Regions from separate parts of the Homo sapiens genome. Here all the other regions are linked to region 3. Evidence: fine-mapped expression QTL. A gene starts in region 3. Each other region holds a variant in brackets. All regions are shown on one strand. Distances are from middle to middle. Region 1 holds the start of TSPAN16 (tetraspanin 16). Region 2 holds the start of TSPAN16-AS1 (TSPAN16 antisense RNA 1). Region 3 holds the start of PLPPR2 (phospholipid phosphatase related 2).

Region 1 (10,185 bases), 58 kb after region 3:
ATGAATGTGATTCTGCACACCAGCAAGTGAGTTCTTGAATAATTCCCAGAGATGGGACTGCCAGGTCAAAGTGCTGAAGCTTTTGTCATTTGGATGGATTTTGCTAAATTGTCCCTCTATTTTGAATACATTTCAAAACCCCAATCAATATGCAAACACTTCTGATCATCTCCCCTTCTCCTGCCACCAAACCCAAGAGGGATGAACTAAATGAACTCAGCAGGTTTTGTGAGGACTTGGAGAGGCAGGCTGAGGATTTCAGCTTCTCACACCATCAAAGGTGGCACGTGTGATGGGCCCCTCCATCACTGGGTCCCCACAATCGATCATGGGTGCCTGGCGGGGAGGGGCGGACTTCTATTGGTTCTATATCTTTTTTTTTTTTTTAACGGAGTCTCATTCTGTTGCCCAGGCTGGAGTGCAGTGGTGCAATCTTGGCTCACTGCAACCTCTGCCTCCCGGGTTCAAGGGATTATCCTGCCTCAGCCTCCTGAGTAGCTGGATTACAAGTGCGTGCTATCACGCCTGGCTAATTTTTTGTATTTTTGGTAGAGACGGGGTTTCACCATGTTGGCCAGGCTGGTCTCAAACTCATGACCTCAGGTGATCCACCAGACTCAGCCTCCCAAAATGCTGGGATTAGAGGCGTGAGCCACTGTGCCCGTCCTTGGTTCTTTATCTTTCTAATGCTATGTGGGAGGAGCAGGGCTGTACTTACAATTGGAAAGAAAAGAAGGACCACTGTGGCAGCTGTAACTTCCATGATGAGGACAATAACCATTGACAGGATGCACTAAAAGACACACGGGGAGAGAGGGCCTGGGAGCCTGCTCAGCCTCCTCCCGACCTTATACCCTGCAGGTGAGGGGTTGTCTCTGTTCCCCCGACCCTCCACCCCAGGCCACCCTGGCCTCTCCAGTTTAAAACAATTCGACCGGGAGCAGTGGCTCAACACTTGTAATCCCAGCACTTTAGGAGACCGAGGCGGGTGGATCACGAGGTCAGGACTTCAAGACCAGCCTGGCCAACATGGCAAAATCCCGTCTCTACTAAAAATACAAAAATTAGCAGGGCATGGTAGGGGTGCCTGTAATCCCAGCTACTCGGGAGGCTGAGGCAGGAGAATCGCTTGAACCTGGGAGGCAGAGGTTGCAGTGAACCAAGATTGTGCCACTGCACTCCAGCCTGGGCGACAGAGTGAAACCCTGTCCCCGCAAAAAAAAAAAAAATAGGTGACACCAAGCAAAGTTGTTTGCAACACGCACAATAAAAGATTTGTGTGTGTGGGGAGGCAGTTCTGGGGTCTGTGTGCAGATCCAACTTACAAACAAGAGCGTGCCTCTGCTCTCTTTAGTCGCTCCATACCACCCGGCACAGCCAAGCAGTACCGTGATGCATCCCATCACCAGGCACAGGTTGCCAACGTGAAGGAGGTATGCGGAGGACAGCCCGAGGACATTCGTCAGAGAGGCCCCTCCACATTTACCACCAATGCCCAGGCCAACTAGGATGATGCCAGACACCTTTAGAACAGAAACCAGAAAGGAAGAAAAGTAATCTGTTAGTTGTATACAAATAGAACTGGGTGAGTGCGGTGGCTCATGCCTGTAATCCCAGCACTTTGGGAGGCCAAGGCCAAGACTTGAGCCCAGGAGTTCAAGACCAGCTTGGTAAGACCTCATCTGTACCCTCTCCCCAACAAAAAAAAAATAGCCAGTAGTAGTGCGTGCCTGTAGTCTCAGCTACTCAGGTGTCTGCAGTGGGAGGATCACTTTAGCTCATGAGGTTGAGACTGCAGTGAGCTATGACTGTGCCACTGTACTCCAGCCTGGATGACAGATCAAGACCTTGTCTCAAAAAATAAAATAGGCCAGCCACAGTGGCTCACACCTGTAATCCCAGCACTTTGGGAGGCCGAAGCAGGTGGATCACCTGAGGTCAGGAGTTCGAGACCAGCCTGGCCAACATGGCGAAACCCTGTCTCTACTAAAAATACAAAAATTGGCCGGGCGTGGTGGTGGGCACCTGTAATCCCAGCTACTCAGGAGGCTGAGGCAGAAGAATCGCTTAAACCTGGGAGGTGGAGGTTGCAGTGAGCTGAGATCATGCCACTGCACTCCAGCCTGGGTGACAGAGCAAGACTCCGTCTCAAAATAAAATAAAATAAAATAAAATAAAATAATGTCATAGGACAGGGATTAGCAATTTTTTTTTTCTGAAAAACCCAGATGTTGTGGCCTCTGCAGGACTTAAGGTGTCTGTTGAAACTACGCAGTTCTATTGGTGTAGCCCAAAAGCAGCTGTTCACAATCTCCAAATAAGTGAGCACGGCCATGTTCCAATAACACTTTATTTTGTATTATTATTTTTTAAATAGAGATGGGGATCTCACTATAGCTGGTCTCGAGCTCCTGGCTCAATGGATCTGCCCACCTCGGCCTCCCAAAGTGCTGGGATTACAGGCATGAGTCACCACAGCCGGCCTTAATTCTCTTTAAAATGTTACAAGTGAAGAGGAGGAGTGATATTTCATTTCCTTCTCTTTCCTGGCAGCTTTTCCTTAGACTATGCTACAATGAAGACAATTACTTCTTTTTATGTTTTTATTCTTTTATTTTTTTATTGAGACAGAGTCTCGCTATGTTGCCCAGGCTGGAGTGCAGTGACACAATCTCGGCTCACTGCCAACCTCTGCCGCCCAGGTTCAAGCAATTCACATGCCTCAGCCTCCTGAGTAGCTGGGATTATAGGCACGTGCCACCACGCCCATCTAATTTTTTTGTATTTTTAGTAGAGATGGGGTTTCCCCATATTGACCAAGGCTGGTCTTGAACTCCTGACCTCGTGATCCACCCGCCTTGGCCTCCCAAAGCGTTGGGATTACAGGCATGAGCCAGCGCCCCCGGCCTGACAATTCCTTAGCAATGTACATTTCGGGTTACTTTTACGGTAAGGAAAAAAATGTGACAAATTTAAAAGATCAAGAAAATAACCCTTTCTCCTGGCCTTCCCAAACAACTTGGTCGGCTACAGGATTTGACTTAGAGCCAAGCTCTTCCATCACCCACCTGGGCTCCCCCAGATCACACTCATCTGTGCTGGATTTCACCAGCTCTCGGTTGATGGAGGTCCCCACGCTCCCTGCTCCTCCTCCTCCGTCTGCCCTACATCCCTCCTGCTTCTCCAGGGAACCACAGATCTCGATGCCAATTTGGATCAACTTATTTCTGTCTTTCAGGGAGCTGACTGTGGAGGAAGGGCTGCAACAAACCAGGGGCCTGGATTGTGACATACTTACAGCCACGAAGCCATTGAGTAAAGATAACAGTTTCTTCAAGGAAGAATACGGAGTGTGGATTTCAGCCATGCTGAACAGACTGGGGCACCCTGAACATTTAAGTTAACATCTTCCTGAACCTCTGGGCTACTGTTTCCCAAGATGATAGGGATCTGAGGAAGGGGCGCCAATGCTGACTTGCTCTGCCCCTCTGTGTCCTGGCTGCCTGATGGTTGTCCAAGGCGGCCCAGCAGCTGCCCCCTGCCCTGGTCATAAGCCTTTTATCACATCACAATTGGGTTCTGGAGCAAGGCTCATGGTCCAGGGAAATCAGGTGCCCCAAACTGCCCCCTGTTGGCTCCTCATCCTTCAAACAGGTCACAGCAGGGAAAGAGAACAGGCATGGTATGCTACCCTGGTACCCTCCAGATGCCACCAGGACCCTGTGGGCATAGTGCCCAGAGCTAACCACTTGCACAGTTGACATCTCCTAGTAGACTGGGGGATCCAAGCGGGGGAGGGGGGAACTTGGGCTGTCCTATTAACAGCTGTGACCCCTGCCAGGCGCAGTGGCTCACACCTGTAGTCAAAGCATGTTGGGAGGCGGAGACGGGCGAATCACCTGAGGTCAGGAGTTTGAGACCTACTAACAATACAAACAATACAAAAATTACCTGGGTGTGGTGGCACACGCCTATAATCCCAGCTACTTGGGAGGCTGGGGCAGGAGAATCACTTGAACCCAGGAGGTGGAGGTTGCAGTGATCTGAGGTCGTGCCATTCCACTCCAGCCTGGTTGACGGAGTGAGACTCTGTCTCAAACAAAACAAAACAAAAACAAAAACAGCTGTGTCCCCAAAGCCTGGCACTGCAGTACTTAAGAAACCCGCGGAGAATGAATGAATGGATCCAGAGGCTCTGTGATGCAGAAATCTAGCTACAAGCCACCGGGCCTCCCAAGCCCAAGCCCATACTTGGCCCATCCTTCATACAGGGCTCAGAGAGGCCAAGGGAACTGCCTGAGGCCACACAGGAAGCAAGACCAGGCTTTGAAGCCCCAAGAGTAACATGAGGGCAGGAACCTGTAAGGCAGAGAGTCCTGGAACTGTGAGCCATTGGTCACTGGGTTTTTTTCTTTTGAGACAGGATCTTGCTCCATTGCCCAGGCTGGAGTGCAGTGGTGTGATCATGGCTTACTGCAGCCACGACCTCCCTGGCTCAAGTGATCCTCCCACCTTAGCCTCCCAAGTAGCAGGTCATTGGGCTTTTCTCCATGGTGATAGATGTAGTTAGCATTTCAGGACCAAAAACCTTCTGTATGTCAGCACTGAAGACCTCCAGGCCTAGATCCTGCAGTCTGTAGCCCACTTTGCCCCCATACCTCCCCACCCTAACCATAGCAGCTTCACATTGCCCCACCCCGATCCCCTCTCTGTCCAGCCCTGGGCTGGGGTGTGTCTGGGTCCAGGTCCTGCATGGATTGGGGGAAGGCGGATGGTTCAAATGGGAGAAAATACCTTACACTTTAATTAATTTAATGAATGTCTGTCAAATCGCCTGCTTCTTGGAACATGTAGAACTAAGCAAGATGTTCACAGAGGAGTGCTGTCTCCTCCTGGACCACGGGTGCTGTTCACAGCCAGGAGTGTGTCCTTCCACACCTTTATTTAAGAGGTCATTTGAAGCCAGGCGCGGTGGCTCACGCCAGTAATCCCAGCACTTTGGGAGGCCGAGGTGGGTAGATCACGAGGTCAGGAGATCGAGACCATCCTGGCTAATGCAGTGAAACCCTGTCTCTACTAAAAATACAAAAAATTAGCCGGTTGTGGTGGCGGGTGCCTGCAGTCCCAGCTACTCGGGAGGCTGAGGCAGGAGAATCTCTTGAACCCGGGAGGCGGAGGTTGCAGTGAGCCGAGACCACATCACTGCACTCCAGCCCGGGAGACAGAGGGAGACTCCTCCGTTTCAGGAAAAAAAAAAAAAAAAAAAAAAGGTCATTTGAAGTAAGGAACCTCAGAACCAGGGGCTGAGGGCCTGGAAATGGGGGCACAAAAGAGGGTGATAAATGGGCATGCAAGAGAGCATTGGAAAATGTAGGGGGCAAAGGAGGTCTGGGAAATGTGGACTCAAGGGAAAGCAGGAAAATGGGGGTGCAAAGGAGGGTGCAGAGAAGGGGGACGCAAAGATGCGAGATGGAAACTTGGCTGCAAATGAGCAGTGGGAAAACGGGCTTAAAGGACGGTGGGAAAATGAGGCTCAGATACAAGAGAGCTGGGTGAGTAGCAGACGGCGCTGTAGACGTGGGAGCAGCTCCTGGAAGGAACTGGCCGGAAAGGAATCTGGGCCGGCTGCACGCAGCCCCGCCCCTCGACCGCCCCAGCCCCTCTACCCTCCCAGCTTCTCTGCAAAGCCGCATCTACAGCCTCGCGCGTCTCCTGGCGGCGGCCCGTGGAAGCGCGGCCCTACGTGCCGGGGCTGGGCCAGGACTCTCCCTGCCAAACACGTCCAAATGTGCCCGGGTGCCCCAGGGACCCCGCCCAGCCGGTCAGCGTCAGGAAA[T/C]GAAGCAAGAATAACTTCCCGTGCCCCAGATTCCTACATCACACACCCACGGAACTTTGCAGGCATCCGACGAATTGCAAATGCAAGATACTTGCTTTTTTTTTTTTTTTTTTTTTTTGTAGAGACGCGGTCTCGCTATGTTGCCTGGGCTGACCTCTAAGTCCTAGGTTCAAGCCATCCTCCTGCCTCGGCCTCCTAAAATGCTGGGATTACAGGGATGAGCCACCGCGCCCGGCCAGGACGTTTAATATCATTGTCAAAATCATAGAAGGGCCACTCCAATACACCCTTATGGTGTGTTGAGACATTTATTTCTCCACATGCTTGGTCTCCTTTTTTATTTTTAGGGGATTAAAATTGTTTAATTTTTAATTATGTGGGCACATAGTAGGTGTACATATTTATGGGGATGGGAGATATTTTTTAAAAAGCACAATTAACCAGCCGGGCGCGGTGGCTCACGCCTGTAATGCCAGCACTTTGGGAGACCGAGACGGGCGGATCACAAGGTCAGGAGATCGAGACCATCCTGGCTAACACGGTGAAACCCCGTCTCCACTAAAAAAAATACAAAAAAAAATAGCTGGGCGTGGTGGCGGGCGCCTGTAGTCCCAGCTACTCGGGAGGCTGAGGCAGAAGAATGGTGTGAACCCGGGAGGTGGAGCTTGCAGTGAGCCGAGATCGCGCCACTGCCCTCCAGCCTGGGCGACAGAGCGAGATTCCGTCTCAAAAAAAAAAAAAAAAAAAAAAAATCACAACCAAAAAATGAAATGTGTTGAATACAATCACACACAGAATATTTATGTCAACGACCCATATTAGTCAACAAACTCTCCTCTTTTTTTTTTTTTTTTTTAATTTTCAGACGGAGTCTTTCTCTGTTGCCCAGGCTGGAGTGCAGTGGTGCGATTTCGGCTCACTGCAACCTCTGCCTCCCAGGCTCAAGCAATTCTCCTGCCTCAGGATCCTGAGTAGCTGGGATTATAGGCGCAACGCCACCACGCCCGGCTAATTTTTGTATTTTTAGTAGAGATGGGGTTTCACCACGTTGGCCAGGCTGGTCTCAAACTCCTGATCTCAAGTGATCCACCCCCCTCGGCCTCCCAAAGTGCTGGAATTACAGGCGTGAGCCACCGTGCCTGGCCTGAACTCCTCTTCTTAAATTCATGTGTTTGTTGTCAAGGGCAACAATTGGGTGTTTGGGAGCACTGAACAACAAATAGTGAATGAATGAGACCTGAGCTTGCGCCCACCCTTCAAGGTCAGAGAGGAGCGCGGCAGTAGGTTCGCCTGCTCACTTGTTCATGTAAACTTTGCGGCAGAAATGTATTTGTTTACGCCTCACAAAACCTAGATCCATCCTTGACAAAGGGGCATTTTATGGTTTCAGGTATTTTAATAGCCATCGTTGGGGAAGGAGGCAAATCAGAATCCACCATCCAAAAAAAAAGTCTGGGACACACAAAAGAAAGGTGTCTGTCCTTGCAGAGGCTGGTCCACACCTTTGGCATCAGTCACTTGTTCTAGGAGTTCCCAGGTTGTGCACCTCAGCCCTCACTGGGGACAAGCACAGAAGTGTCACCAAGTTTCAGCATCAGGGGCTGACGTCATTGTGGCAGGAGAGGAGCATGATGGTAATCATTGCTACCAAATGAAAAAAAAACAAACAGCATTTCCACCATTAGGGATTTTTTTGTTTGGCTGGTTGTTTTTTAAAATTGCATTTGTTTCCCCATGTTCACATTCTGCCTTAGGGTTAACACTTTGTGCTCTGTATGGTGGGTTGGGAGGCACTGAGGAGTGATCAGAAGACCCCTGTCAGGCCAGGCACAGTGGTTCACACCTGTAATCCCAGCACTTTGGGAGGCCGAGGCGGGTGGATCACCTGAGGTCAGGAGTTCAAGACCAGCCTTGGCCAACATGGGGAAGCCCCGTCTCTACTAAAACTACAAAATTAGCTGGATGCGGTTAATTACAGGTGGGCACCTGTAATCCCAGCTACTCAGGAGGCTGAGGCAGAAGAATTGCTTGAGCTGGGGAGATGGAGGTTGCAGTGAGCCGAGACCGCACCACTGCACTCCAGCCTGGGCGACAAAGCGAGACTCTGTCTCAAAAAAATAAAATAAAATAAGAAGACCCCTGTCCTACAGGGACACTCACTGCTTTCCCAGTTCCTCTCTCTTGCTACATAAAGAAAGATCTGCAATTTCTACCCCTTCAGCTACCTTAGCTTCTGGCTGGAAAAGAGGGAAGTGAAATTAAGGAGAACCAGGAGATGGGTTTTTGTTTGTTTGTTTGTTTTTTGAGACAGGGTCTCGCTTTGTCTCCCAGGCTGGAAGTACAGTAGTGTGATCTCAGCTCCCTGCAACCTCACCCTCCTGGGCTCAAGCGATCCTCTCGCTTTGGCCTTTAGAGTAGCTGGGACCAATGGCACGTGCCACCACGCCCGGCTAATTTTTTTATTTTTTGTGGAGACAGGGGTCTCGCTATGTTTCCCAGATTGGTCTCGAACTCCTGGGCTCAAGCAATCCTCCTGACTTAGCCTCTCAAAGCGCTGGGATTACAGGTATGAGCCACCACACCCAGCCAAGATCCTTGATAATATTAAAAATATTTAGTATATAAGGTATACCCAGGCAGTGATGAGAAGGGAGGGTTTCAGGGGTATCAACCTTGAAGGGTTAGGAGGACTGGAGGGTCCTGATGAGAGTTCAGGAAGCAGCGAGTGGCCCCAGACCAGTGCATGCAGGTGACACATCTCGAGGGGGCTTCTGTTCTTGTTAGCATGGGGGATCGGGTTCTAATTCCCTCTGTTGTCTGGGCAGCTGGTCCCAGGGTGGCCAAGACTGTTCCCATCCCATATTCCTCAAGTATCTCACTTAAACACATTGAAAAGGTTGGCCAGGTGCAGTGGCTCACGCTTGTAATCTCAGCACTTTGGGAGGCCAAGGCAGGCGGATCACTTGAGGTCAGGAGTTTGACACCAGCCTGGCCAACATGGTGAAACCCCGTCTCTACCAAAAATGCAAAAATTAGCCGGGCATGGTGGTGCATGCCTGTAATCTCAGCTACTCAGGAGGCTGAGGCAGGAGAATCGCTTGAACCCGGGAGGCGGAGGTTGCGTTGAGCCGAGGTCTTGCCACTGCACACGCCAGCCTCGGCAACACAGTGAGACTCTGTCTCAAAAAAAAAAAAAAAAGACCTCATAAATAGCTTTTGGAGATTTTATTACAGGCGGACCTGTAACAACCGCAAATGGACTTTTAAAACCTTGTGGGGAATGTTTCTCCTTCTAGGAATTCCTACTACAGATTTATTCAAATGCACATAGGCCAAGAGCTGGCAGATTTTTCTGGAAAGAGCCAGAAAGTAAATATTTTCAGCTTTGCGGACCATACCGTCTCTGTTGGGACTCTGCTATTGCAGCCATAGAAAATATGTAAATGGACAATATGTAAATATATGTAAATGAACAAGTGTGACTCTGTCAAAATAAAATGTTATTTATAATATGAGATGGTTTTGTTATTTACAAAAATGGGTGGCAGAATGTAGTTTTGCTAATGCCTGCTCTTAAGCCTCGCTTGACTTGTGAATGATTGGAAACAACAACTTAAGTGCCCTTTGTTTTTGTTTTTTTGTTTTTTTTTTAGACGAAGTCTCACTCTGTTGCCCAGGCCGAGGGCAGTGGTGCAATCTCAGCTCATTGCAACCTTCATTTCCTGGGTTCAAGCAATTCTCCTGCCTCGGCCTCCCCAGTAGCTGGGACTACAGGCATGCCCCACTATGCCCAGCTAATTTTTGTATTTTTGGTAGAGACAGGGTTTCACCATGTTGGCCAGACTGGTCTCGATCTCCTGACCTCAGGTGATCCACCTGCCTCGGCCTCCCAAAGTGCTGGGATTACAGCCGTGAGCCATCGTGCCCGGCCTTAAATGCCCTTTGAAAGTATTAGTAGCTGATTAAGTATAAGATTGTCCAACTAGAGGAAAAGATGCTCAAAAGCTGAGAAAATGAATGCAGAAATCTTTGTTGCTTTTTTGCAGACTGGATCTCACTTTGTTGCTCAGGCTGGAGTGCAGTGATGTGATCATAGTTCATTGTAGCTTCAAACTCCAGGGCTCAAGTGATCCTCCCGCCTCAGCCTCCTGAGTAGCTGAGACTACAGGCACACACTACCGCACCTGCCTTTTTTTTTTTTTTTTCCATTTTTGGTAGAGACAGGCTCTAGCAATGGTCTTGAACTCCTGGACTCAAGTGATCTGGCTGCCTCAGCCTCCCAAAATCCTGGGATTACAGGCATGAGCCACCACACCTGCTCAAATTCTTAACTAAAAGAATTGACAACG
Region 2 (7,587 bases), 28 kb after region 3:
CCTGAGTAGCTGGGACTGCAGGCACGTGCCACCACACAAAGCTAAATTTTGTATTTTTAGTAGAGACGGGGTTTCACCGTATTGGCCCTGGTCTCGAACTCCTGACCTCGTGATCCGCCCACCTCCGTCTCCCAAAGTGCTGGAATTACAGGCGTGAGCCACCACGCCTGGCACCCCCCAACCTTCTTCTTTTTTTTTTTTTTTTTTTTGAGATAATATCTTGTTCTGTCACCCAGCCTGGAGTACAATGGCACAATCTCGGCTCACTGCAACCTCCGCCTCCCAGGTTCAAGTGATCCTCCTGCTTCAGCCTCCTAAGTAGCTGGGATCACAGGTGTGCACCACCATGGCCAGCTAATTTTTGCATTTTTAGTAGAGACGGGGTTTCATCATGTTGGCCAGGCTGGTCTCAAACTCCAGACCTCAAGTGATCCGCTCACCTTGGCCTCCCAAAATGCTGGTATTACAGGCGTGAACCACCATGCCTGGCCTTAATTTTTATATTTTCTTTAGAGACTGGGTCTTGCTATGTTGCCCAGGCTGGTCTCAAACTTGTGAGCTCAGGTACCCACCTGCCTCAGTCTCCCAAAGTACTGGGATTATAGGCTGTCTTAATACTTTTCTGTAGTTTCTAGTTTCTCCAGTAAATTTCTCTATTGAATGACATCCAAAAAATGTATTTTTTTTCCTTTTTAAAATTTTTATTTGTTTTAGAGACAGGGTCTCCCTATGTTACCCAGGCTGGTCTTGAACTCTTGGGTTCAAGTGATTCTCCTGCCTTGGCCTCCTGAGTAGTTGGGATTACAGGCGCATACCACCACGCCTGATTAATATCAGAAAAATAAGCTGGGCACGGTGGTTCATGCCTGTAATCCCAGCACTTTGGGAAGCTGAGGCAGGTGGATCATCTGAGGTCAAGAGTTCGATACCAGCCTGGCCAAAATAGCGAAACCCTGTCTCTACTGAAAATACAAAAATTAGCCTGGCATGGTGGTTCACACCTGCAGTCCCAGCTCCTTGGGAGGCTGAAGCAGGAGAATCGCTTGAACTCGGGAGACGGAGGTTGCAGTGGGCTGAGATCGTGCCGTTACACTCCAGCCTGGGCGACAAGAGCAAAACTCTGTCTCAACAAAAAGAAAAATAAAGAACACAGATGGTATGAGGCAAAGCCACGCGTGGATAAGGAAACACCAGATTTGCCCAGGAAGACAGTGGGATGGCTTTGATATCTCTGGGCTGACAGTAGGAGATCTAAGTTCATGTCCTGCCCCTGCTATTGTTCATTTACCCATTCATTCATTCAACCATTCAGCAGACAGTTTCTAAGCACCCTCTCTGTGTCGGGCACTGGGTACAGCCATGGGCGGAAATCCTGCCTGCCTGGAGCTGGCTTTCTAGTAGCGGAGACAGATAATAAATGGGTAATTACACAGCTAACTCATTATGATTCCATTTTCATAGTTCAGCATGACGCACAGAGAAGACAGGTCCACTTACCCTTGGCCACGTGTAACGTGGCAGGCGTTTGTCTGAATTCCTGGCTTACCTTGGTGATGTGGCAGGTGGGGCTGCATGGAGATTCAGGGACAGCTCCTCTCAGGCAGACCCTCAGGAACCTTAAAAGGATGCAGGAAGCCCAGCGTGGTGGCTCACGCTGGTAAACCCAGCACTTTGGGAGGCCTAGGCGGGGGGATCGCTTTAGGCCAGCAGTTCAAGACCAGCCTGCGCAACATAGCGAGACCCCCACCTCTACAAAAGAAAAAATTGAAAAATTAGCCGGGCATGGTGGGGCACACCTGTAGCCCCAGCTACTCAGGGGGCCAAGGCGGGAGGATCGCTTGAGCCCAGGAGGTTGAGGCTGCAATGAGCCATGTTCATACCACTACACCCCGGCCTGGGCAATAGAGAGAGACCGTTTCTCTTTTAAAAAAAGCAATGGAAAATGTGACTTGATGGGTCTCCTGACCATGCCTTTCTGTGCAGCAGAAATTGGGTGGAAGCTGAGCTATAGCCACCTGTGGGCACTGCCATGGCCGCAGGGCAGCAGAACTCTTCATGTACCCTCCCACCTATACTCTTGCAGCCACTGCCTTGTGACAAAGAGATCTTAGGATTGTCCAGACCATGGCTGCAGCCGCAGGGTTTCGTTTTGTTTTGTTTTTGAGACAGGGTCTTGCTCCATCACCCAGGCTGGTGTGCAGTGGTGTGATCATGGCTCACTGCTGCCTTGACCTCCTGGGCTCAAACCATTCTCCTGCCTTAACCTTCCGAGTAGCTGAGACTGCAGGTGAACGCCACCATGCCCCTCTATTTTTTTTTTTTTAATAGAATCTCGCTCTGTTGCCCAGGCTGGAGTACAGTGGTGTGATCTCAGCTCACTATAACCTCCGCCTCCCAGATTCAAGCAATTCTCCTGCCTCAGCCTCCCGAGTAGCTGGGATTACAGACGCGTGCCACCATGCCCAGCTAATTTTTTGTCTTTTTAGTAGAGATGGGGTTTCACCATGTTGGTCAGGCGGGTCTTGAACTCCTGACCTCAAATGATCCTCCCGCCTCGGCCTCCCAAAGTGCTGGGATTATAGGCATGAGCCTCCTCACCTGGCCGCCCATCTACTTTTTAAAAAAATTTATTGTAGAGATAGGGCCTTGCTATGTTGCCCAGGCTGGTCTTGAACTCCTGGCCTCAAGCGATCCTCCCGCCGTAGCTTCCTTTAGTGCCAGGATTACAGGCATAAGCCCCTGCGCCTGGCCTGCCACAGATTTTTATCATTGGTAGGATCATCATTCCCATTTTACAGGTGAGCAAACTGAGGCTTGGAGTGGCAAAGGCACACAACCAAGGTCCCACAGCAGGATAAAGAGCAGAACTAGGCTTAGAAGCCAGGTTTCTGTGATGCCACAGCTGAGACTCTGCCCTCAGGGGTCTTACGAGTGTCCCCACCTTAACATTCATCCAGGTTTCGAGTTCTTTGAAGCCAGTGCCAAGGAGAACATCAATGTGAAGCAGGTCTTCGAGCGCCTGGTGGATGTCATCTGCGAGAAGATGAACGAGTCCCTGGAACCCAGCTCCAGCTCAGGCAGCAACGGGAAAGGCCCGGCCGTGGGGGATGCTCCAGCCCCCCAGCCCAGCAGCTGCAGCTGCTAGAGATGGCCCCCAACCCCCCACCCACCCCTCTCCTGCCTCGGCAGGGACTGTGATCGAGGCGTGAGCCACAGTGGTTATCTCCAAGCTCAGGGCAATCCCTTCCCTCCTGTCAACTGCTCCCCGACTCCTGCATGGCTCATTCCTTCACAATGTCGCCGTGGCTGCCAGGTTCCTCAGGCAGCCCCGGTGGGAGGCTGCGGACCATGGGGACTCAGCTCTGCATGGCAGGCAGAGGCCCAGGGACACTGACGTGCATGAGCTTGCTGCTTTCCAGGGTGTGTTGAGGGTGGCCATGGGTGACACGTCCCACTCTTTCTGATGGAGGGGCATCCGTGGTGCCTTCTAGCTTAGAACCATTTTCCAGGTCTCTTCTGGGTTGGGCAGGACTGATATTCCCAAGCTGGTGGAAGATGGTTCATCTTCCTCGCACAGTGTGGGTTCTTGGAGTTCATCCAGGGAAGGCGGCGCCTCTTTCTCAGGTCCTGCAGGCTGGTCTCTGAGCCTGCCCCCACGAACTTTCTGGATTCCAAGGTGGGATGGTGATCCCTTTGACCCCTGCAGACCCTCTACTTGCGAAAAGCAGCATTGAAGCAGCCTTTTCCCATTGTAGAAGGGACAGGGAGTCAGATCCCCTCAACCCCCCGGCTTCAGGGACCCCAGAAGTGCCTTCCAAGCTTCCCCCAAGATCCACATCACCCACGACCCTGCCACTGTTTTTGCTGTGTTCACCACATCTCTGATCCTGAAGTGAATTCTGGAACTATGGACCACATTAGACTGGGCAGAGATTCGCCCAACCCCTAGCACTCCGGCTCTGGGCTTTCGGCCAGAAGTTAATTAACCTCAGAGCCAGGAGCCTGGGGCTGGGGCCTCCCTCCCAGGCCCTGTTTAGCTGTTTAGCTGGTTGTGTTTTAAGCAAGTTCTTGCCCAATCATGCATCCTGCTAGAAAAGGAAATGAAGCAACGTTCCCAGCCACCGCAGGCAGTTGTCGGCGACTTTCTGATGTAAGCACCTGGGCTCCGACTTGAGGGGGGCCCTTCAAGACCCAATGTCCATTTCCCAATCCTTGTCATCGGCAGGGCCCAGGGATGTGACAATTTTTGCTAATGGAGGAGTCACTTCTTTTTTTTTTTTTTTCTTTTTGAGATGGTCTGGCTCTGTCACCCAGGCTGGAGTGCAGTGGTGCAATCATAGCTCACCACAGCCTCAAACTAGGGGTCACTTCTAAGGGATGCTGGGGGTTGGGCGGAAGGGGTGAGGAGGTAGGATTGAGTAACTTGCTGTCACTGCTTGTACTTTGTAGACAGCCTGAGAGTGGCAGGACCTTATGTGAATGGGGGGGATGGACTGTGATCAGTGCCGGGGAGTCTCTGAAGCTGGGGTCCCCACCTCCAGGGGCTTCTGCTCAGAGGTTACGTGTGCAGTTTGAAGATGTACATCTTGACCTCCGGTTTAGAGGCACTTTCTGCCCATCAGATTCCAAACTCTAGGGGCGCAGCACCTTTTCTTTGCTCCCAAACACCAACCAACACCCCTTCACAGGACCAGCACTGTTAGGATGGCTAAG[T/C]GGATGTTTTATGTTCCCACGTCCCTGACTCTGTTTCAGAGGTTGTGTCTGCTCTCCCAGCCCCTGAAGCCAAAATGACTTCCTGCAGCTTTCATGAGCTCAGCCTCTTCCCTGGGGTATGTGTGAGGGGGAAAGCCTGGTTCAAGTTTAGATTTATTTCTAGGGAGCCCTGGTTTCTTCATACCAGAGGCTACCCTTAGAACTTTGGAGTGGGGTATCTTTTTTTCATTTGTTTTTTTGATACAGAGTCTCGCTCTATTGCCCAGGCTGGAGTGCGGTGGCACAATCTCAGCTTACTGCAACCTCCACCTCCAGGGTTCAAGCGATTCTCCTGCCTCAGCCTCCCGAGTAGCTGGCATTACAGGCACCTGCCACCACACCCGGCTAAATTTTGTATTTTTAGTAGAGAAGGGGTTTCACCATGTTGGTGAGGCTTGTCTCAAACTGACTTCAAGTGATCCACTTGCTTCGGCCTCCCAAAGTGCTGGGATTACAGGCGTGAGCCATCACGCCCAGCCGAGGGTATCTTTTATACCAACAAATTAGATGACTGAGGTGTAATGGACAAATCCTATGCACAAAGTGAGGGTATCTGAATATGTGGGCGGGAGTCAAAAATTTTTAGCTACTTTAACACTAAAGTCAAACTAAAGTAGCTTCAAAAAGACTTCTCAAGATGCAGTATGGCCTGCTGAGGTTTTTTTGTTTTTTTTTTTTTTAAGACAGAGAGTCGCTCGTCGCCCAGGCCGCAGTGCAGTAGCATGATCTCAGCTCACTGCAACCTCCACCTCCCGGGTTCAAGCGATTCTCCTGTCTCAGCCTCCTAAGTAGCTGGGACTACAGGCACCTGCCACCACGCCCATCTAAGTTTTGCATTTTTAGTAGCGACGGTTTCACCTTGTTGGCCAGGCTGGTTTTGTTGGCCAATTGTCTCTAAACTGCTGTCAAAAAAAGGAATGGATCAGATTGTCTTGAATAGGGCAGAGCTAACCTGTAATCACCTGTGTGATGAGAAACAGCTTTGACTGCATTTTACTCCTGACCTGGCCTAAGCTTTCTGTTTACATAAGATTTTTCAAGAATTCAACTTCAAGTAGCAGCCGAGAGAGCTGCCTCAGGATTCTCTCAAAAACTGGGAATAATATGGGAACATTTGTTTCTTCTAAAAATAAGGCAAATGTTACATTGAATGATTTGGGGGGTGAGGTTTAATTGGAAATGGTCTCTGGGGACTGAAAACTGATGTTTTTGCAGATTACCTCAGGGAAACGGAGGTTTGTTGAGTTTACAGACACATTAAACCAAAGGCCGTGGGAAAACCCCTCTCCAGCTCCAGGGGATTGGTCAGGACCACCCACTAACCAGTGCCTTCCTTCTTAACATTCACTTTTAGCAGCTTGTGTTTATTTTACATGGGCAGTTTTGATGGGAAATTGCCATGACCACAGGGGTTTGGAGTTCTGCTTTTTTTTTTTCTTCTTCTTTTTCGGGGGACTGGGGGACTCCTCCCAAGATCACATTTTAGCATCTTTCTCTCCTACTCCATTTAGAAAAATAAGTAACAGGTGAAATGTGGTCTCAGTGTTAACGGGATAATTCTGCTACCGGCTCCTCCCTGATGATTCTGAAATACACTACTGAACGAGCTCTGGCTGGTCCTTTCTATCCTGGATGTGGTTCTTCTGTGTAGCAATTCCTTGATGTCCAGTTTGGAAAGATGTACTCTTCTCAACAAGAAAAACTTAAATCCGTCGTGCCCAAATATAGTTGTGCTTTTATTTCCATTAGTGAAGTGCGTTTCTGGGAAAGGGGGTTTGATTTGCAACTAAGCAGATATCAGTCAAGGGCTCTTCAAGACACAGCAGAAACCTCACCGGGCCTCGGGCTGCCTCCCACTGGGTCCCATGGCCACCACCTTGACCTTGGAAAGCTCTGTTATATGGAAGGTAGGGAGGACACTATTTCCCTCAACTACTTCTAGTAAAAAGCTCAGTTCTCTCCCCAGCAGCAAGAGGGCACCTGTGAACACCTGAGTCACAGCGCATTCCTCCTCTGCTTAGAACATTCGATGGCTCCCACCTTACTTGCAGTAAATGCTGAGGTCCTTCCTGTGGCCCCCGGGGCCCTGCATGATCTGATCCATCCCTTCCCTACCCTCATCTCTCCACTGGCCTCCCCACACTTGCTCCCCTCCGGCCACTCTGGCCTACTTGCTGCTATCTGAACATACCAGGCCCCTGCCCCAAGGCCTTTGCCCAGAATGTTCCCCCTGCCTCTGCCTGGATGGCCCTTACCCAAGGTAGTCACAGTTGATATGGTTTGGCTTTGTGTCCCCACCCAAATCTCATCTGGAATTGTAATCCCCATAATCCTCACGTGTCAAGGGAGAGACCAGGTGGAGGTCATTGAATCCTGGGGGCGGTTCCCCCATGCTGTTCTCCTGATAGCAAGTGAGTTCTCACGAGATCTGATGGTTTTATAAGGGATTCTTCCGCCTTCTCTCGGCTCTTCTCCTTCCTGCCACCTTGTGAAGAAGGTATCTGGCTTCCCCTTTGCCTTCTGTTATAATTGTAAATTTCCTGAGGCCTCCCCAGCCATGTTGAACTGTGAGTAAATTAAACCTCTTATGTTTTTTTGGGTATTTTTTTGTTTTTTTTTTTTTGAGACTCAGTCCTACTCTGCCACCCAGCTGGAGTGCAGTGGTGCCATCTTGGCTCACTGCAACCTCCGCCTCCCAGGTTCAAGCAATTCTCCTGCCTCAGCCTCCCGAGTAGCTGGGATTACAGGCACACTCCACTACGCCTGGCTAATTTTTGTGTTTTTAGTAGAGACGGGGTTTCACCACGTTGGCCAGGCTGGTCTCGAACGCCTGAC
Region 3 (9,815 bases):
ACAGATAAGGAGACTGAGGTTGGACAGAGACAGAGATAGGCACGCCGTCTCTGGGAGAGGTACGGGGGTCCTCACCTCCACGAAGACAAAGCAGGGGATGATGGAGAAACTCCTCTTCAGATGCGGTCTCCCTCCCGCCATGGTGAAGGCCAGGCCTGCAGAGGTGGGGAGGGAGTGGGAGTCCCAGGGGGTGTGCCTAGGGGAAGGCTCAGGTCACCGGGACCCTGGCTTCATCCCCTGAGTCCTTTGGCCACACCCCTGGCCCTGAAGACCCGGGGAGGCCCTGACTCTGTCCCTTGAACCTTCTGGCCATGCCTCTGCAATCCAGGTCCTGCCCTGTTGGTCCTGACCCTACTGGGGACACCTGCCTCCTCTGACACCACTCCCCAAGAGTCTACGGGGGTCCCTTCCTTTACAGCCTACATGGGAGGCTCTGACCCAATGCCCTTTAGGAGGTGGGCCTTTAGAAGAGACTCCCCAGCCTCATGGGAACCCCTCCCCCATGGCACTTAGAAGGGTCCCCACTAGTTTTTAGGGGACACCATCCTCTTTCCCAAGGGGCCCCCATCCCTACCAGACCCTTCCCCTGAGTCGCTTCCTCCATGGCCTCTGCAGGGGCCCCTCTCTCTGTCCCCATGGGCTGTGGTGTTGGTGTCTGGTTGGGCTGATAGCCAAGCCCTCCTTCTCTGCCAACTGCCTCTCCCTCCTTCCCCCTCTTCCCAGCCGGTCTGCCTCCCAGTTCTCCTCTTCCCTCCCCCAAGGCTACCCCCAGTCCCCAGCGCTTTAGGGCTCAACACAGTCACACCTGCTTGCATCCATTCTCCCAGCCCCATCTCACCTGTGAAAGCGCCCTATGGCTTCCCCCAGGCTGCATCCACGCCTGAAGACTCACAGCCGCTCCTGGCAGCCAGCAGGGCAGGGATGGTCACCCCCATTGTGCAGATGTGGAAACTGAGGCCCAGGCAGGCGAGGGTAGGCACTCTGGGTCCAGCACCCCAACCACGACACTCACTCTGCAGTGTGATATGGGGTGATGGTTGCCAGAGGTCCTAGATACCCAGAGTCACCCATGCTGTCACCCTTAGGAAGCACAACCCAGCCGCAGCCTCCATCCTGGCACCACACACACACACACACACACACACACACAACCATGGCATAGCGTTCACCCATCCCACAGTGAAGACCGAGCACCTGCCGACTTCCAGGCGCTGTGCTGGGCGCCACTTTGCAGTAAACAAGAGGGGCCCCCTTGTTCAGACAGGTGTCCAACACACACAACACATGTCACTGCATACTCACACACAGTGGGCTCATAGCCTGTCAGAGACACCAAACAGATCAAACAAGTCCCCACCCCCACCCCAGGCCAAACAGAGAGAGACATGTCAGGAGACCCTACACACATCACAGTCCCACACAAGCCCCCACACCGCTACAGTCAGGGACACACAGTCAGGCCTGCAACACACTTAAGAGTCACAGAAAAGAGTCACCGCACACAATGGGGGTCACAGAACTCATCACAGCGTCACACCCCCAATTACAAGGCACTCAGCGACAGCCACACACACACTAACAGTCTCTTATTCACACCAACAGTCACAGGGGAGAGACAAGGTGCCATCTACAACCACATGGCCACATCCATGGACCATGACACAGACTCACAATGCCACACAAGAAAGGTGCACAGCGCACGACCACAGCCACACACACATACACACCATCAGAATGAACACACAACAGGAGCCACACAATGACAGTCCTATGCACACAACCACACGAACACCAAGACAGTCACACACAGAGACAGCAGCCACACGGGGGGCCAATGGCAGTCACAGCATAGCCAGACACACACACACAAACCATCAGAGTGACACCCACAACGACAGCCGCACAATGACAGTGACACACACACACACACACCCGCGGACCTCCCGAAACCACACAATCCCAGTCATGCAGCCACACGATGACAGTTACACAACCACACACAGACACACAATGACAACCACACAATCACAGTTACCCACAGCCGCCCTCACCACCGGTGCTGGCTCCTCGGCCCGGGGTCCCCTCCCCCAGCCCGGTCCCCTCCCCCAGCTCGCCGCCTCCCCTCCCCCGCCCCTCCCCGCGCTGGACCCAGAGGGACCCAACCCTCAGGAACCGGAGACCGACACCGGGGGTGGGAAGCCCACGGGAGGGGATGAGGGGCGCCCCCACCCCCTCCTCTCACCGCGTCGAGGCCGCCGCCGCCTGAGCCCCCGCTCCGCCTAGACTGCCCCGGCGCGGCGGGATGGACAGACGGACTGCCAGCCAGGCTGGCAGACGCGAAGACCGAGACGCGGTCGGCCGGGCCTGGCCGCGCCGCGCAGACTCCGAGGTGGAGGGAGGGGCGGGGCCTCCGGGCGTCTCATTTGCATAGCCCCGTGGGGCGGGGCCTCCGTGATCTTGGAGGCGGGGCGTGTTAGCATCGATTGTAGGAAGGAACCAAGAATGGAAGTAGAGAGGGAGGACCCTGGGGTGGGCGGGGCTCCGAGGGTAATAGGAGGGAGGGGCTTCAGAGTATGTCCCTGGGCCGCGCCTCTCCCTCTCTGGGCCTCAGTTTCCCCATTCGCCAGGGCCCCCCAGAAAGGAAGGCTCTGTGGCCAGTGTGGAAGTCTGTCTGGCTGCTCGTGTCTGGACAGAATGACTCCTTGCCTTGTCATATATTAAATCTGGCTTCAGATGTCCCCTGATTCCAAGCCCACACATCCCGAATGACCCCTGGGGTCTCTACACCCCTCCCCCCCAACAATGAGGGGTAAACTAGGAGGGCAGGGGGATTCCTAGGCACAGGAAGCAGCAAGACTAACAGTCGGGGCTAGAGGAGGGTCTGGGCTAGTTTATTTTCTCTCTGGAGGGGTCTTCAGGGAGAGCAGTCCCGGCTGCTCAAGCTGTGGAGAGAGAGGGTGGGTCAGGGCCTGGCCAGGTCCAGGGGACTCCGGGGCTGCAGGTCAGGGACCGCATGCCCAGATCAGGATCTGGGCCTGTTCTGAGGGTCTAGACTGTGGGAGTCAAGGGCAGGTCAGGAGGGAAATGGGTGGAGGGGGGGACTGGGGAGGATCTGCACCGGGTGGGAAGGAGCGGCCGCTCTTGCTGAAAGGTGGCTGGGAGAGGTCCTGGTCACAGTCGGAGTCAGAGTCCCAGGAGGGGAGTGGAGGGCTCAGGCACTGGTGCCCCTTGTGGCCTGCAGGAGGGACAGGTTCCCTGAATGTGACCCTCAAGTAACCCCCAAATATAGGCCCTGTGTCCCTTCATAGTATACCTCATTGATACTTAAACCATGACCCCCAATTCCCTTGAATGTGATCCAGTGTGACACCAAATTATGACTTCAATGACCCTTGCATTTTACCCAATTGACACTTTTTTTTTTAGAGATGGGGTCTCGCTCTGTTGCCCAGACTGGAGTGCAGTGGCACGATTATGGCTCACTGCAGCCTCAACCTCGCAGGCTCAAGCGATCCTCCTGTCTCAGCCTCCTGAGTAGCTGAGACTACAGGTGTGCTCAGCCACAGGTGCACCATCACCCAGCTAGTTTTTAAATTTTTTGGAGAGATGGGGTCTCACTGTGTTGCCCAGGCTGGTCTCAAACTCCTAGACTCAAGTAATCCTCCCACCTCAGCCTCCCAAAATATTAGGATTACAGGCATGAGCCACTGTGTGGAGTCCCCATGGACTCATATAAGATCCAAGTGACTCTGAATGTGACCATGAATGACTCCTGGATGAAACCTCCAGTGACTCCTTAATGTGACCCCAGAACACTACTTAATGTGACCATAGAATAACACCCATCAGATGTGACTCCCAAATAGGCTCTCTGAACATAGCCTCCCTGTGAAGCTAGACAATGACCTCCCACCCCTGAGCAATTCTCAGCCTCCCTCACCTCTTAGGCTCGAGGCCTTGGGACAGGCCCCCGAGCACAAAGTGAGGCTGTCTATGGAGTTCTGCAGCACGTGCACAGCAGACCTGCAAGAAGACAAGGAGCTGGGGGCGCTGGGAGACTCCACACTGCTCAGGGTGTAGACAGCAGTACAGCTAAGGTTGGGGGCCGTGGTGGGGTGAGTCCTAGGGGGTGAGGGAAGTCTGGACTCAGGTGGGCTCCAGGTTCTGGTGGTCACTGCCAGATCCCGTTGGGGGAACGGGTTCAGAGGAGGGTCAGGGGTCAGACTGCAGGCTGGGCATCACCATATATCACTCAGTTCCTTCTGGAGGTCATCCTTCCAGCAGCCACTGGCTCCCTGCGGTATCTCTTCAGTCTCCGGACAGGCGGCTGTCTCATGACCCTGCTGCTTCATCTTGGTCAGGATCTGGGGTGGGGAGGGATGAGAGAACAGCAGTCATAATAATAATGACAATAGTGCCAGGCGCGGTGGCTCACACCTGTAATCCCAGCACTTTGGGAGGCCGAGGCGGGCAGATCACGAGGTCAGGAGATTGAGACCATCCTGGCTAACACAGTGAAACCGCATCTCTACTAAAAATACAAAAAGTTAGCCGGGCGTGGTGGCGGGCGCCTGTTGTCCCAGCTACTCGAGAGGCTGAGGCAGGAGAATTGCTTGAACCCAGGAGGCAGAGGTTGCAGTGAGTTGAGATCGCGCCATTGCACTCCAGCCTGGGCAACAAGAGGGAAACTCCGTCTCAAAAAAGAAAACAAAATAAATAATAATAATGATAATAGTAAAAGGTGACTGTTATATAGCACTTGTTATATGCCAGACTGCATTCAAGTGCACAGTACTCAGCTAATACAGACACCTGATCAGGTAGGGAGGAGTGTTTTTTTTTGTTTTGTTTTTTGTTTTTGTTTTTGGTGTTTGTTTCTTTTTTGAGACAGGGTCTCAGTCTGTCGCCCAGGCTAGAGTGCAATGGTACTATCAGGGCTCAACGCACCCTGAACCTCCAAGGCTCAAGTGATCCCCCTACCTCAGCCTTCTGAGTAGCTAAGTCTACAGGCATGTGCCACCACACCCTCTTGTTTTTTTTGTTTTTTGTAGAGACAGGGTTTTGCCATGTTGCCTAGGCTGGTCTTGAACTTCTGGCCTCAAGCAATCCAACCACCTCAGCCTCCCAAAGTGCTGAGATAACAGGCATGCCACAGCACCCAACAGGATGAGTTTTCTTTTTCTTTTTCTTTTTTCTTTTTTTTTTTTAAGATGGGAGTTTTGCTCTTGTCGCCCAGGGTGGAGTGCAATGGCACGATTTCGGCTCGCTGTAACCTCTGCCTCCTAGGTTCAAGCCATTCTCCATCCTCAGTCTCCTGAGTAGCTGGGATTACAGGTGCCTGCCACCACACCCAGCTAATTTTTGTATTTTTAGTATAGACGGGGTTTCATCATGTTGGCCAGGCTGGTCTCGAACTTCTGATCCACCCACCTCAGCCTCCCAAAGTGCTGGGATTACAGGCGTGAGCCACCGCGCCCAGCCAAGATGAGTTATTATTACATCCATTATACAGATGAGGAAACTGAGGCTCAGAGAGGTCAAGTGACTTGCCCACAGTCACACAGCAGTGAGTGGCAGAGCTGAGATTTGAACCCAGGCTCCAATCTCATGGTGGAGGCTGGCCAAAATCCCCATCCCTCCCTCTCCCACTCCTCCCCAGGGTCCCCATCTCCTCCACTCACTTTGCGGCATTTCACCTGCGTTTTCTGCATTTTCTGAATGTTCACCAAGTTCTCTGAGATCTCATCCTCCTGCGCTTCTGTGGAGGGAGGGGGCTCAGGCGGACAAAGGCTGAAGAAGGACCCCCTCCCCACACACCGGCTGTGGGCTCCAGGAACTCACGGAGCTTCTGATAGATGAAGGTCACCTCCTCCCGCACCAGTTCCAGCTCCTCCCACAGGAACTTCTTGCTGAGGGGACAGTGCAGCCTAGACCTGCACTCCCTGCCTGGCCCCTGACCTCCCATGCCCCTATCTGTGCCTCCACCCATCCCCGCAAGCTCTGTCCCCTCCCCACACTTCCCTGCCCTTTTCCCCTCCCCTTCTACAATCCCCCTACCCTCATCCCCCTCCTCTCCTTCTGATCCCCAGCCTCCCATTCTCTCAGTCTCTCCCACCCCACTCAGCCTCCTATCACCTGGCCTCCACCTCCCCACCTCCTGTCCCCCGACTTTCTATACCCCCAGTCTCCTGTCCTCTCAGTCTTCCCTGCCATCCCCCTTTCTGATCCCCTGGCCTCCTTTTCCATCCCACCTCCAGCTTTCTGTCTTCCCTGCCTTCTGGCCTCTCAGTTTCCCACTCCCCCGCCCCCACCAGCCACCTGTCTCCCCTGAGCCTCTCATCCCCTCCTCATTTTTTTTTTTTTAGACAGAGTCTCGCTCTGCCGCCCAGGCGCCCAGGCGCCCAGGCTGGAGTGCAGTGGTGCGATCTCAGCTCACTGCAACCTCTGCCTCCTGGGTTCCAGTGATTCTCCTGCTTCAGCTTCCCTAGTAGCTGGGATTACAGGCACCCGCCGCCATGCCTGACTAATTCTTGTATTTTTAGTAGAGATGGGGTTTCACCATGTTGGCCAGGCTGGTCTCGAACTCCTGACCTCAGGTGATCCGCCCATCTCGGCTTCCCAAAGTGCTGGGATTACAGGCATGAGCCACCACACCCGGCCTCATTCCCTCTTCTTGTCCCTCAGGCTTTCCACCATCCCTCAGTCCCCCTCCCCCAGGCATCTGCCATTTCCCCCATCCTGCCTCCATTCCCCAGTTCTGGGTCTCCCTTCCCTCCTGTGGACTCCAAGCTGCCCTCCCGCCATCCCCGACCTGTCCCGGATCTCCTGGGCCAGCAGCTGCAGGCAGCGAGTGGTGCGGGCCCGCTGCATCTCCTCACTGTCACGCAGGGTCTTCTCCAGCCCCTGAAGGCCTTGGGTCAGGGCCCCATACAGCTCCTGCCGGCCCTGCTCCATGCCCCACTTGTGCTCCTCCTTCTCTCCCTGGCGGCCTGTGGGGCTCAGCACCTCTGCAGAGAGTGTGGGACCTTGACTGAGCCCTGATCCCACCCTGAACCCAGCTTGTCCTAATCTTGACCCAGAACCCAGACTCTCCCAATTTCCCTCACCCTGGCCTGGCCCAGCTGATCCCAACAGGACCAGCTTCCAGCCTGACTTTTTTTCTTTTGAGATGAAGTCTTGCTTTGTTGCCCAGGCTGGAGTGCAGTGGCGTGATCTCGGCTCACTGCAACCTCTGCCTCCCAGAAAGCAATTCTCCTTTCTCAGCCTCCTGAGTGGCTGGGACTACAGGTGCATACCACCACGCCTGGCTAATTTTTGTATTGTTAGTAGAGATGGGGTTTCACCATATTGGCCAGGCTGGTCTCGAACTCCTGACCTCAGGTGATCCACCTGCCTCAGCCTCCCAAAGTGCTGGGATTACAGCCATGAGTGACAGCACCTGGCTTTTTTTTTTTTTTTTTTTAAGTAGATATGGGGTTTCACCATGTTGTCCAGGCTGGTCTCAAACTCCTGACCTCAAGTGATCCAACCTCTTTGGCCTCCCCAAATGCTGGGATTACAGGCGTGAGCCACCACGCCTGGCCTAGCCTGACCTTGATCTCTGGTCAGTCCTCACCTTCAAGCTGCTGAATCTTGATTTGCTGCAAGCAGCTCTCCTTCTCCAACATGGTCACTGAGTGGTTCAGGAACTCGAAAGCCTGGGGGAAAGAGGTCAGCCTTGGGGTGGGAGGAAGGAGGGGAGGGCAAGGAGAAACAGAGGTTGCTGGGGGCAGGGCCAAGGTGGTTCACCTTGGTCTGGGCCTGTAACTGGCTCTTGAGTGACTCAAGTTCACATCGCAGGAGCTTCTGGGAGTCGGGAATCATCACAATGGTCTTGGCTGTGGGCAGAGAAGAGGGTGAGCCAGGGCTGTAAGGGGTGGGGTCTGGGGCAAGGGCAGGGCAGAGGTCAGCAAAGGCTCAGAGTAGCAGTAGGGACAGGGGATAAGATATAGAACAGGGGCCCACTCAGCCTTGGGCAGGAGTGAATGGGTGACCATGGCAGGGGGACAGCTGATGCTGGGGCAGAGGGTAGAGGTAGAAACCAGCAGGTCTTCCCCACACAGTTTTGTTGGAAAGGAGATTTCTCACCTTTGACTTTGGAAGAGCTGGTCTCCAAGGGCTTCTAAGGAAGAGAGATGAGATGGGAGTAGAAATTTGTCCCTGAGCTGCCTCCTTGCTCACCTCAACCCAGTTTTGAGGGCTGGACAAGAGTTGGATCTCCTCAGTTCTAGGTGTCCCAAACCGTAAGTGCAGGCAAAGCTGCACTCCAGGCATATTCATGCACCTCCCCCTTGGGCTACATATGCTCAGAAGTGCACTTATGTGGCTGAGAGACGATCACAGCCAAATCCCCATGGAAGACACACAACCACACTCTTTCCTTCCATTCATTCCTTCATCCATTCATTTAAGACTTGCTTAGCCAGGGCCTGCTGAGTGCCAGGTGCTGTTCTAGGTGCTGAAGAAACACAGTGGGTGCATTCATGGGAGTCTCTCTGCCTTACAGCCCCTTCCCTAAGCCCCACAGCAGTAGATTGCAGTGGTTTTCTGCATTGAAGGGGTTTCCCGGGTGGGGGTGACCTTAGCTACGTTGTGATGCCTCTTCAAAATGTCCTGGTCATTACAGCACTGCTTCTGCAGGTCTGGACTGGGGGAGGGGGCAGCCTCATGTGGCGAAGGCCCTGAGCCCCACCCTGGCCTGCAGTCTGCAGTCCTCACTGTGTCCCCAGAAGCAGGGCATCCCAAGGTCTCTGGCTCTGGAGTCCTGGACCAGTGAGCTGTACGCTCCAGAGCCTTGTCCGAGGAAGAGCCTAGGGGTGAGGGCTTCCTTGAGGGACAGTGCAGGGCACTCCTCACATTCCCAGCCCCTCCCAGTGTCCCCAGCCCTATGGGAGCCCCCTAACTAACCCCAGTACTTGTCACACTTCATGTTAGCAGGCAAACACATGCTGGAGGGTGAGGGAGGTGAGTAGAGGCAGGACACAGAGTAGTCAGGGTCCCGGGGTAGGCCGGCCAAAAGAGGGTCGCTGTGAGTAGGGAAGCAGGGGCTGCTTTGAGATAAGTCCCCATGTCCCCAGTGCCCCCAGACCCTCCCTGACATGCCAGAGAGGCCTCAGCCCTAAACTCAAGGCTTCTCAGTTATGGTAGGAGCCAAAGCTGGATAAAAGATGATCCCAAGGCCAGACGCGGCCAGCAATGGTGGCTCACGCCTGTAATCCTAGCACTTTGGGAGGCCAAGGCGGGAGGATCACTTGAGGTCAGGAGTTCGAGACCAGCGTGGCCAATATGGTGAAACCCCGTCTCTACTAAAAATACAAAAACTAGCTGGGCATGGTGGTGGGCGCCTGTAATCCCAGCTACTCGGGAGGCTGAGGCAGGAGAATCACTTGAACCCGGGAGGCGGAGGTGGCAGTGAGCCGAGATTGCACCACTGCACTCCAGCCTCAGCAACAGAGTGAGACTCAGTCTCCAAAAATAAAAAACAACAACAAAAAAGATTATCCCAGCCCCAAGGTTTGGGCTGGGCAGTGAGAAGGACCCAGAAGGCCCCAAAGAAAAAAAATCAGGCCTCAGAAGAGTCCAAAGAAAAAAGGGACCTTGACATTGGCTTAAAGGAAGGCCTTTCCTGGCAGGGAGCAGCATGTGCAAAAGCTTGGAGGTGTGGAATCACATGCTCTATGCTGGTAAATTCATGATGGCTGAATCGAGGTCCGAGAGGAAGCAGCAGGAGGTTAGCAGAGCAGCTCCAGTAAGGCATTGACGGCCAAGCCAGGAGT

What was found. PIP is the estimated chance that this variant, and not a neighbour inherited with it, causes the effect.
Region 1: its variant is fine-mapped to the expression of PLPPR2 in whole blood (TOPMed, PIP above 0.99). The same link has a PIP of 0.9 or more in blood mononuclear cells and monocytes.
Region 2: its variant is fine-mapped to the expression of PLPPR2 in whole blood (TOPMed, PIP 0.98).

The regions. Positions count from the first base shown.
Region 1 is chr19:11,289,480-11,299,664 of GRCh38, reverse strand. It overlaps TSPAN16 (tetraspanin 16), which reads right to left and starts at 3,505. Exons shown (of 7, transcript NM_001282509.2): 1 at 3,299-3,505; 2 at 1,326-1,523; 3 at 719-793. The coding sequence starts at 3,367. RefSeq lists enhancers at 471-970, 971-1,472. The variant T/C (reference allele first, on the strand shown) is at 5,837.
Region 2 is chr19:11,320,956-11,328,542 of GRCh38, reverse strand. It overlaps RAB3D (RAB3D, member RAS oncogene family), which reads left to right. Exons shown (of 5, transcript NM_004283.4): 5 at 2,958-6,475. The coding sequence ends at 3,145. It overlaps TSPAN16-AS1 (TSPAN16 antisense RNA 1), which reads left to right and starts at 7,218. Exons shown (of 3, transcript NR_187778.1): 1 at 7,218-7,319. It also overlaps a transcript of TSPAN16 not described here. RefSeq lists an enhancer at 4,086-4,295. The variant T/C (reference allele first, on the strand shown) is at 4,714.
Region 3 is chr19:11,348,000-11,357,814 of GRCh38, reverse strand. PLPPR2 (phospholipid phosphatase related 2) reads right to left here and starts at 2,383. Exons shown (of 10, transcript NM_001393892.1): 1 at 2,243-2,383; 2 at 839-1,013; 3 at 76-155. The coding sequence starts at 141. CCDC159 (coiled-coil domain containing 159) reads right to left here. Exons shown (of 11, transcript NM_001080503.3): 2 at 8,128-8,161; 3 at 7,789-7,877; 4 at 7,616-7,697; 5 at 6,812-7,007; 6 at 5,842-5,909; 7 at 5,682-5,758; 8 at 4,243-4,364; 9 at 3,941-4,023; 10 at 3,119-3,235; 11 at 2,871-2,942. The coding sequence ends at 2,938. RefSeq lists enhancers at 530-1,471, 6,845-7,345 and a silencer at 2,114-2,563.